Regions from separate parts of the Homo sapiens genome. Here region 1 is linked to region 2. The links come from fine-mapping of genetic effects on gene expression. A gene starts in region 2. The other region holds a variant in brackets. All regions are shown on one strand. Distances are between the middles of the regions. Region 1 overlaps HSPA14 (heat shock protein family A (Hsp70) member 14). Region 2 holds the start of CDNF (cerebral dopamine neurotrophic factor).

The links. PIP is the estimated chance that this variant, and not a neighbour inherited with it, causes the effect.
Region 1: its variant is the best candidate, but not a certain one, in a credible set for the expression of CDNF in thyroid (GTEx, PIP 0.71).

Annotation. Positions count from the first base shown.
Region 1 is chr10:14,867,705-14,872,048 of GRCh38, reverse strand. HSPA14 (heat shock protein family A (Hsp70) member 14) reads right to left here. Exons shown (of 14, transcript NM_016299.4): 12 at 4,140-4,313; 13 at 1,382-1,452; 14 at 308-521. The coding sequence ends at 443. It also overlaps a transcript of SUV39H2-DT not described here. Among named protein-coding and RNA genes, the nearest start is that of SUV39H2-DT, 8.8 kb to the left of the region's middle. The variant G/A (reference allele first, on the strand shown) is at 2,408.
Region 2 is chr10:14,836,027-14,840,345 of GRCh38, reverse strand. It overlaps CDNF (cerebral dopamine neurotrophic factor), which reads left to right and starts at 2,309. Exons shown (of 4, transcript NM_001029954.3): 1 at 2,309-2,514. The coding sequence starts at 2,400. It overlaps HSPA14 (heat shock protein family A (Hsp70) member 14), which reads right to left and starts at 2,040. Exons shown (of 14, transcript NM_016299.4): 1 at 1,887-2,040; 2 at 361-441; 3 at 189-271. The coding sequence starts at 1,943. It overlaps MSANTD7 (Myb/SANT DNA binding domain containing 7), which reads right to left and starts at 2,040. Exons shown (of 5, transcript NM_001378785.1): 1 at 1,887-2,040; 2 at 361-441; 3 at 189-271. RefSeq lists an enhancer at 1,757-1,996 and a silencer at 2,147-2,256.

The sequences.
Region 1 (4,344 bases), 32 kb before region 2:
ACCACTGCACTTGAGCCTCGGTGGCAGTGCAAAATCCTGTCTCTAAAAACAAAAACCAACAAAAAAAGGCATCTTACTTTCTATGTGGTCCTGAAATTTTTTTCAATTAATGTCAATGACTTTTAATTGTTCTCTTGGTTATCTAACAAGAATCAATAGAAGACTTTTACAAATTAAATGTTATAGAAAATTCTTTAACCAACTCAGTTTAATTCTAAACAGCTTCATGATAAAAAAAAAAAAAAACTTCCTTATATTTCCCAGTAATAAGAGGTTACTGTACGTCAAAAACAAAGGGTTGCAACACTTACTGATATATTGTAGTTTAATAAAACATAGTTTATACAGTTCATTGAAAAAGTATTTTAATACAAACACCACTTATACACAAAACCAAATGTTGATATTCTTGTTTTTAAAAATTCTTGATTTCTCTAAAACACTAAGATGCTATCTCAATAGAGATTGCTTCACATTTTCCAGTTTCTTGATCTGTGCATGTCACATGTAAAGATCCATCCCTAAACAGACAAAAAAATAAAGAACATTGCACAAGCTCATTTTATAAAAACATAAAGTCTGTAACAAGTTACTTGAGGGCTTTCAGTAAACAAGGGTTAATTTTAATTTTCAAAAGAAGGGTATTAATGTAAAGAATAAACACAATCTCAGTGTCTCTAAATTTAGTAAGTGTCATATGTTATATTTAGCTAGTTGTTATTAGGAACTTCCTTCCAGACCACTAAGATCATGGTTGTATTTCTTGAAAACCCATGATGACAAACATCTTAGGTTTAAGACTTTATATAAGCTCCAGATGCACCATGCTATTTTCAAGCCTAGGCCAAGGCAAACTCACCCTGATGAATTCTATATTCTTGCTAAGTATCGTTTATGGAGTAAGTTGTCTTTTAAGTTTCATTTGGAAAGGATTTACTTGTAATACATAGTGATATGGATAGCTTGTGGTTAGGAAAATGGCAATAGCTGAATTTAATTAGTACATTTTTTTCTTACAGATTTTCTGCAGCAATAAAGAAACTTACCCTTTCATAGGGCAAACAGTAACAGTTACATAAACCTTAGAAAATTATACTAGAAATTGATAAATTACATCTCAAATGAGCACAGATCAGTTTCTTAGGTTGATGATAGCCAAAATAAAGAGTTCCTAAAATATTCAAGATGCAAATGACTTGAGATATACTTTTCTTTGTAAAATATAGTAATTCTGGGGGCAAAAAATGTAATTCACTGATAAAAACCTCTGTAGGTTTTTAATGTTTCTTCTAGAATGACAATAAATAAAAAAATCAATAAACTCAAAAAATGGTCAAGTATCAAATTGAATTTTCTTAACAACAGAAGTTTAATTTTTTACCTTTTCATAGTAAGAACAGCTAATATATCACGTAATCCATTTTCTTTTTTATCTAAATCCTGGAGTACAACCTGTTTATACAAGAACAATATGAAGAGAATTCAGCATCTTTACATAAATGAACTGATGTATCAATTATTGCAAAGGACCAAAGCTTATTTATCACTGAAACAAACCTTTTTAAAATAGGGCAGTTTTCAATTCTCCTACCACTGAATCAGAATTCAGAGAATAGGAGTGAAGCTTTGTTAACTTGAAATGTTTCCTCCAGAAGGAGGGCATATAAGATAACTAATGCATTTGTCCCTTCTAAATGTCATGTCCTAGATTAAAATCATTGTTTCTAAGATGTACTATTAATCTTGGAAAATAAAGGCTACTTTTCTTTTTTGGTAAGTAAGCCATTCCCAGTAACACGCAAATTATAATTTGGCTAGCTTTCTATATATACTTAAAAAAAAAAAATCAAGCATTTTAAATACATTTGGAAAATCACCTACTTAAAAACATGGCAAACTCTTTTGTACAACTAAGATTATATTTGTAAGTAAGAGATGGTAATGAATTTACTATAAAATTCCTCAGTTTCCTAAAGAATGGTATATCAAGAAACCAGATTTGGAGTTCTGCAGTGACTTTAGGCTTTGCCAAACTCTAGTTTAATAACTTAGGTAAGTTACTAAGTACCTTGTTTTACTCATTTGTAAAATAAGGTTAGAACAGATGGGAACTCTGAAAGATTCTCTTCCAAATTCAGTATTACGTGGCTAACGCTCCTCCTGGCATCTTTAAGTTAGGATATAGTGGCAGCAGCTATGGAGTCTCAGAGAGGATGTGAAGAAAAAGGTAACAGAACTGTGAGAGAAGAGCTAAGGAAATACTAGGACTGCCATCTGAGTTCAAAAACCTGGTGCATGGGAAGGTTCTTAGACACACACAAACCAATTCATGTGGAAGCGCTTTTAAAACTTTACCAATAGATTCCAAGTTGGTAAGTCTGAGGTGCAGCCCAGGCATGTTATGCAT[G/A]TGTGTGTTTTCATTACTCTTTTGTTGGAATTAGAAAATAAATATGTGGCCAGGCGTGGTGGCTCATGCCTGTAATCCCAGCAGTTTGGGAGGCTGAGGCAGGCAGATCACCTGAGGTCAGGAGTTTGAGACCAGCCTGGTCAACACAGTGAAACTGTCTCTACTAAAAATACAAATATTAGCCAGGTGTGGTGGTGCATGCCTGTAGTCCCAGCTACTCCGGAGGCTGAGGCAGGAGAATCAGTTGAACCCGGGAGGTGGAGGTTGCAGTGAGCTGAAATCATGCCACTGCACTCTGGCCTAGGTGACAGAGCAAGATGCCGTCTTAAAAAAAAAAAATTAAAATAAATATGTGAGCTAAAGATATGTATCTCTTTACACACACACACACACACACACACACACACACGTACACGTACACACACAATATCTCATCACTAATAAACACCCTGTCTTCTCAAAAAAGCTAGGCATTTTTAGTCTGCTTCTGGACTTCTCTGAATGTGCATATATTTTTTAAAAAACAATACTGCTTTGGGAGGCCAAGGCAGGCGGATCATGAGGTCATGACATCGAGACCATCCTGGCTAACACGGTGAAACCCTGTCTCTACTAAAAATACAAAAAATTAGACGAACGTGGTGGTGGGCGCCTGTAGTCCCAGCTACTCAGGAGGCTGAGGCAGGAAAATGGCATGAACCTGGGAGGCGGAGCTTGCAGTGAGCCGAGATCGTGCCACTGCACTCTGGCCTGGGCAAGAGAGCGAGACTCCGTCTCAAAAAAAGAAAAAACAAAAAAAACAGTACATTATTTTTTGTTACCGATATTTAATTTTTACTATAAAAGTAATTCATGCTCATGTCCTGTGCTGTTTGTAAAAAATTCAGTATAAGGTGTCAAAAGTCAAAAAACCCCTCTTGGTACCTTCAAACTTATTTACCTACTGTGAAGTTTCTGGAATATGGTTTAAGTACCTATAGATATTTTCTGTATAAATGCCTGGATATCTGAAAATGCACCCCTACTCAAATACTACCTCCTCACACACACTCATGCTCCCAGACTTTTTATTTAGATACAAATGGCATTGTAATACAAATACTGTTCTGCAGTCCGTGTGTGTGTGTGTGTGTGTGTGTGAATGCAACTGCATTTCTCAGACATGTTTCTAAGTAAATAACGTGGCTCTACTTCACTCTCTGTAAAGCATACAGAGGGTCACATAGTATAAGATATGCACGCGGTATTTTAAAAAAGCAAACCTATCTTGTCTCAGAGGCAGCATGGCACAATGGGAAGAGCATGTCATGGGCTCAGAAATGAAACCAACGTGAGGAGAAACCCTAGCTTGACCAAGAAAATAAAGGGTATTTGCTATCACAGGCCAACTTCTTAATCATCTGTAAAACGTACACAATAATGTGCATTTAGCATGAACCAAAAAATATAATTCTCCCATTCCACTTACCTAACTACCAAGGTAGGCCAAGAGCACAACAGAGAAGCAGTCTAAATACCCAGAACTCTTTCAAATTAGAACTGCCTATTTTTTCCCTCTTTCAAAAATGAGTACACAGGTGTTCATTTTCAGAAATGAGCCTTCATAAAATCCTTCATAAAAATGTATTAGGTGTCCTTTATATATATACACATTTTGTATTAAGATATTAAACTGAATCTAATCCAGAAAGCAAAGTTGAACAGTTTAATGTGTCTAACTTTATGTATTCACCTGTGCAAACTTGGTTTCCTCTTTGGCAGAGTTCTTCCCATCAGACTCATAGAGTTCAAGGCACACTGAAGATATGCTTCCAGGGGCTTGCAATGTGTGTTGTCTTCGAGCTGGCAAAGGAGTCCCTGATGGAAACAGCACTGTGAATCTACTGGCTCCTGATTCGTCCACACCCTAGTTAGCAGGAAACAAGGTGCATACTCTT
Region 2 (4,319 bases):
CATATCAGAGAAGATCCAACACTAAGAATCAAAAGACACTGCCTACTGGGGGTACTCTCTGTAATGACTCAGTCATAAAAAGCAATGAAGAAACAAACTATGCTGTTTCTAATTTCTTTTCACATTATGCTTAGAATTTATGAACATGTTCCTATTACCATATTTAAAAGTATCATTTGATTCCATACCTTCTGCCCAGGATCTGCTTTACTTTCATTACTGTATTTGAAATATTTCTTATTCTACTTTGTTTTGCTGCCAATCCAACAATCTGAAAAAAAAAATAATATATATATATATATATTACAATGTATGTAATTTTAAATTATTTCAGAAGTACAAAAATGGGGGGACTAGTACCTCTTCATTTTCTGAGTAAGCAACAACAGCTGGAGTAACTCGGTCACCGGCATCATTTGCAACCACACCAGCCCGGCCATCCTAGAGAAAAAAACACGAAATACATAGTCTCATTAGACGTATTCAGACGTGTGCATTTGTGCACCAGTGTTACTTTGCCATCTGTGTGGAAAGAAAAACTGCTATCTCAATATTTTAAACTTGCAAATTTAATTACCATTTAATTTCCTCGTTTTCATAGAAAGCCTATAATTCCATGAAGAACTGCCTCATGTTTTCAGTCTGCTCTGCAAAGTCAACAATTGAATCAAAAGTAATAACAACCTTTCTACACACAAAACGAAGGCTATTATTACGTTACCTTTCCTACCTCTCTTCCTTCTTACCATTACCATTTCTTTTTTTTTTTTTTTTGGACACGGAGTCTTGCTCCGTGGCCCAGGCTGGAGTGCAGACTGCAGTGCCAGATCTCGGCTCACTGCAACTTCCGCCTCCCGGGTTCAAGCCATTCTCATGCCTCAGCCTCCTGAGCAGCTGGGATTACAGGCGTTCCCGGCTAATTTTTAGTATTTTTAGTAGAGGCGGGGTTTCACCATGTTAGCCAGGCTGGTCTAGAACTCCTAACCTCACGTGATCCGCCTGCCTCGGCTTCCCAAAGTGCTGGGATTACAGGCGTAAGCCACCGCGCTGGGCCCCTTTCTTCCCATTTCTACAAATGAAGTAGTATTATTCCCTTTGGCTTTTCCTAACAAGTCATTTGACATTTAAACGCGGGACTAGTGGCAACGGAGTTCATGATTATCGTTTCTTCTGCCTCCCCACTGATGAGAGAAAGGCCACAAGTCCTGTCAGGCTCTCACTTCCAGAAAGGCCACCTCTGTAGACCACGCACCATCAACTGGCTTCACAGCCAGGCAGCTTTGCGGGACCATCAGCCCCAGCTCGACTGCAGCCTCCCCGCCCCTCCGGGACCTAGACGTTCGGGCCCAGCTCAGCGCGTTCTGCGGCCCTGCTGTCCCAGAGACCACCGCCTCCAAGTACCTCGCGGCCACAACTTTCCCAGGACCTCCCACCCGCGGGAATCCTGAGGCCCTGACGTCAGCGAGACCCCTTCCGGCATCCAGAGGCCAGGACGTCCCCGTGACCTCCCCCAAAATGCTCGCAGCCCCGCCGTCCCCGGGACCCCCCGGGACACCCAGCGGCCCCGCTGTCTCCGGGACCCCCCCGGGCACCCTGCAGCTACGTCGTCCCTGGGACCCCTCCGGGCATCCCGCCGCCATGACGCCCTGGGACCCCGCGCGTCTACATCGCCGCGAGCCTCCGCCGCGGAGTAGACGACTTTCCGGAGGAATCGCCAGGCGCGAGGCCGGGCCTGCCCGGCCCTTCGCTCCGGAGTGTCCTCGCGGCAACGCCACTCCACGACATCCCTAGGCCGGCGACACGCCGCTCTCAAGCCTGTGGATGACCCAGCGCCAGAAAACCGGGTGGCCGTCATGAAGCCCTAGCCCAGCTCCGCAGCCCCTCACCTTATAGACGGCCACACAGGCTGAGGTGCAGCCCAGGTGAACTCCGATGGCCGCCATGAGGCAGCAGGGACGGCAGCGGCAGGAATGAGGGGGTCCCCCAACAGCAACAGCTACCGGCCGCCCAACGGCCCCATCAGGCACCGCGGAGCTTCACGTTCCCGCCAGCCCCCTGCGTCCGGTCGGCCGCTACAGCCTCCCGCGTCGCCGCCAATCAGCGTGAAGGTTCCGCCTTTCTTCACGCGCAGTCCGCGAGTAGCTTCAGCGCGTCTCTGCGCTCCGCGGAAACTGCACAGTGCGCACGCGCAACCGGGGAGGGACGGGAAAAGGCTCCTACACTCCGCCCCCTTCCTATCCCTTCCTTGAGAGCCAATGGAAACTCTGTGTTCAGTTGCGTCATTTGTCCTGGCAACTACTGGCAGATTCTTTCCAACCTCGAATTCTGCTCAGCTCGCTTTGGCAGCTTGGTGGGCGGTGGGCGCGGGTGGCGGAGGCGATTGAAGCTGCTGGCCCAGCATGTGGTGCGCGAGCCCAGTTGCTGTGGTGGCCTTTTGCGCCGGGCTTTTGGTCTCTCACCCGGTGCTGACGCAGGGCCAGGAGGCCGGGGGGCGGCCAGGGGCCGACTGTGAAGGTGAGCGGTGTGACAACTGCTTGCATGGCGGCGGCCCCGCGCTGCGGCGCAGCAGCTGTCGGCTTTGGCTTCTCCTGGCCCTGGCTATAAATAACATTCCGCCCAGGAAATGCAGGCCCTGTCCCTCGTTTTAGATCGCCCAAGCCCAGCTCGAGTAAAAAGCTCAAGCCGGGCCTGGTGGTAACGTGAGGCCACGTTGTGGTTTTGCTGTGAATATTAAACTTCAGCAGTAAAAGCTGGTGGGTTTGTATTTGGATTAGAGTTTGTGCAAAGAATGCTAGATTCAGATGATACTGGCGCCAGATTGATTCTGCTGCTTCCAACCAGCAAGATTTGCCTCCCCTTGCACAGAAGACGTCTTTCAAGTCCAAGCTAGTTGGTGACTCCCCAAAGGAAAACAAAACATGGCATTGAGTTGAGTAGCTTAAATCAGAGGACATAGCTAATATTTGTTAGGACTCTGTAGGTGAAAATTGCTTTGCAAAGGAGTACACTGACTCCTTGGGAAAGAGAGGAATACAAAAGAGTGGTTCCTTTTTGTTCACGGTATCTCAGCTGTGAACTCGCAGTCAGAATACGTGAGTCTGTATCCCACCAAGTCCCCTAGCTCTGAGACTTTGGTTTTTGCAAAATCAGCGTACTTCACTTTAGAGATCTGTTAGCAAAGGCAAAGAAGGTAAGTGGCTATGCTAGCCCCTTCCTTCTGGACTCCTGTAGCGCTCACTCCATGTTTTACTGAAAATAATTAGTTTAAATGTATATGCCCTCAGCTGGAAAATATATCCCTAGTGAACAGGAAATTGTAGGTTCATCATATATGTTGAGTGAATGGATGGGTATAGTCGTACTAAAGTTGTGTTTTTGTTTGTTTTGTTGTTTTGTTTTTTGTTTTTGTTTTTGTTTTGAGACAGTCTCACTGTGTTGCCCAGGCCGGAGTACAGTGGCACAATCTTGGCTCACTGCAGCCTCCATCATCGGGTTCCAGCGATTCTCCTGCCTCAGCCTCCCAAGTAGCTGGTACTAAAGGCACCACCACCACGCCTGACTAATTTTTATATTTTTAATAGAGATGCAGTTTCACCATGTTGGCCAGACTGGTCTTGAACTCCTGGCCTCAGGTGATCGGCCCGCCTCAGCCTCCCAAAGTGCTGGGATTACAGGCGTGAGCCACAGCGCCCAGTCCTTAAAGTGTTAATAATTGGAGCCTGGCTTTCTATGAGCTCTGCAATAATTAAACTTTTCTCCAGAAATTTAAAATATCTACATGTTATTACTCGATATAAAGATATTTGTTTAGCTAAGTTATAATTTTGCTCCAAACCATGCTATAATTGTGTCCTATACTTTTAAAACAGACTTTGTGAGGCAAAGACAATTGATTTGATGACTCATCTGGGGCTCCCACTTATAAATGTTTCAAGAGAGACAGCATCTGGATTAATTAAATGGGAAGCTTATGCTGTCTGTCCTAAATTTATTACAGCATGCTGTGATTATTGCATGTCTGACTAACCTGTCTATATATTTCATTTGTTAGGTAAAGAAGCTTGTGTAATCGCAGAGGAAGGACATAACAGTTTGGTAACTAAAAGAACCAGATTCTGCATCCAGCTCTATTACTGCTTATGAGTGATCCTCCCTCCTCAGCCTCCTTTCTTATTTACAACTTAATTTCTTCTCAATGTATAAGATTAAAATGCCATATTATACATACTCTAGAGCGAAGGCAAAAAAACTGAATGGTTCCTGAGCCGTCTCGGACCTATTGATATGTTTCGTTACATTTACAAAATATTTTGAAAAAA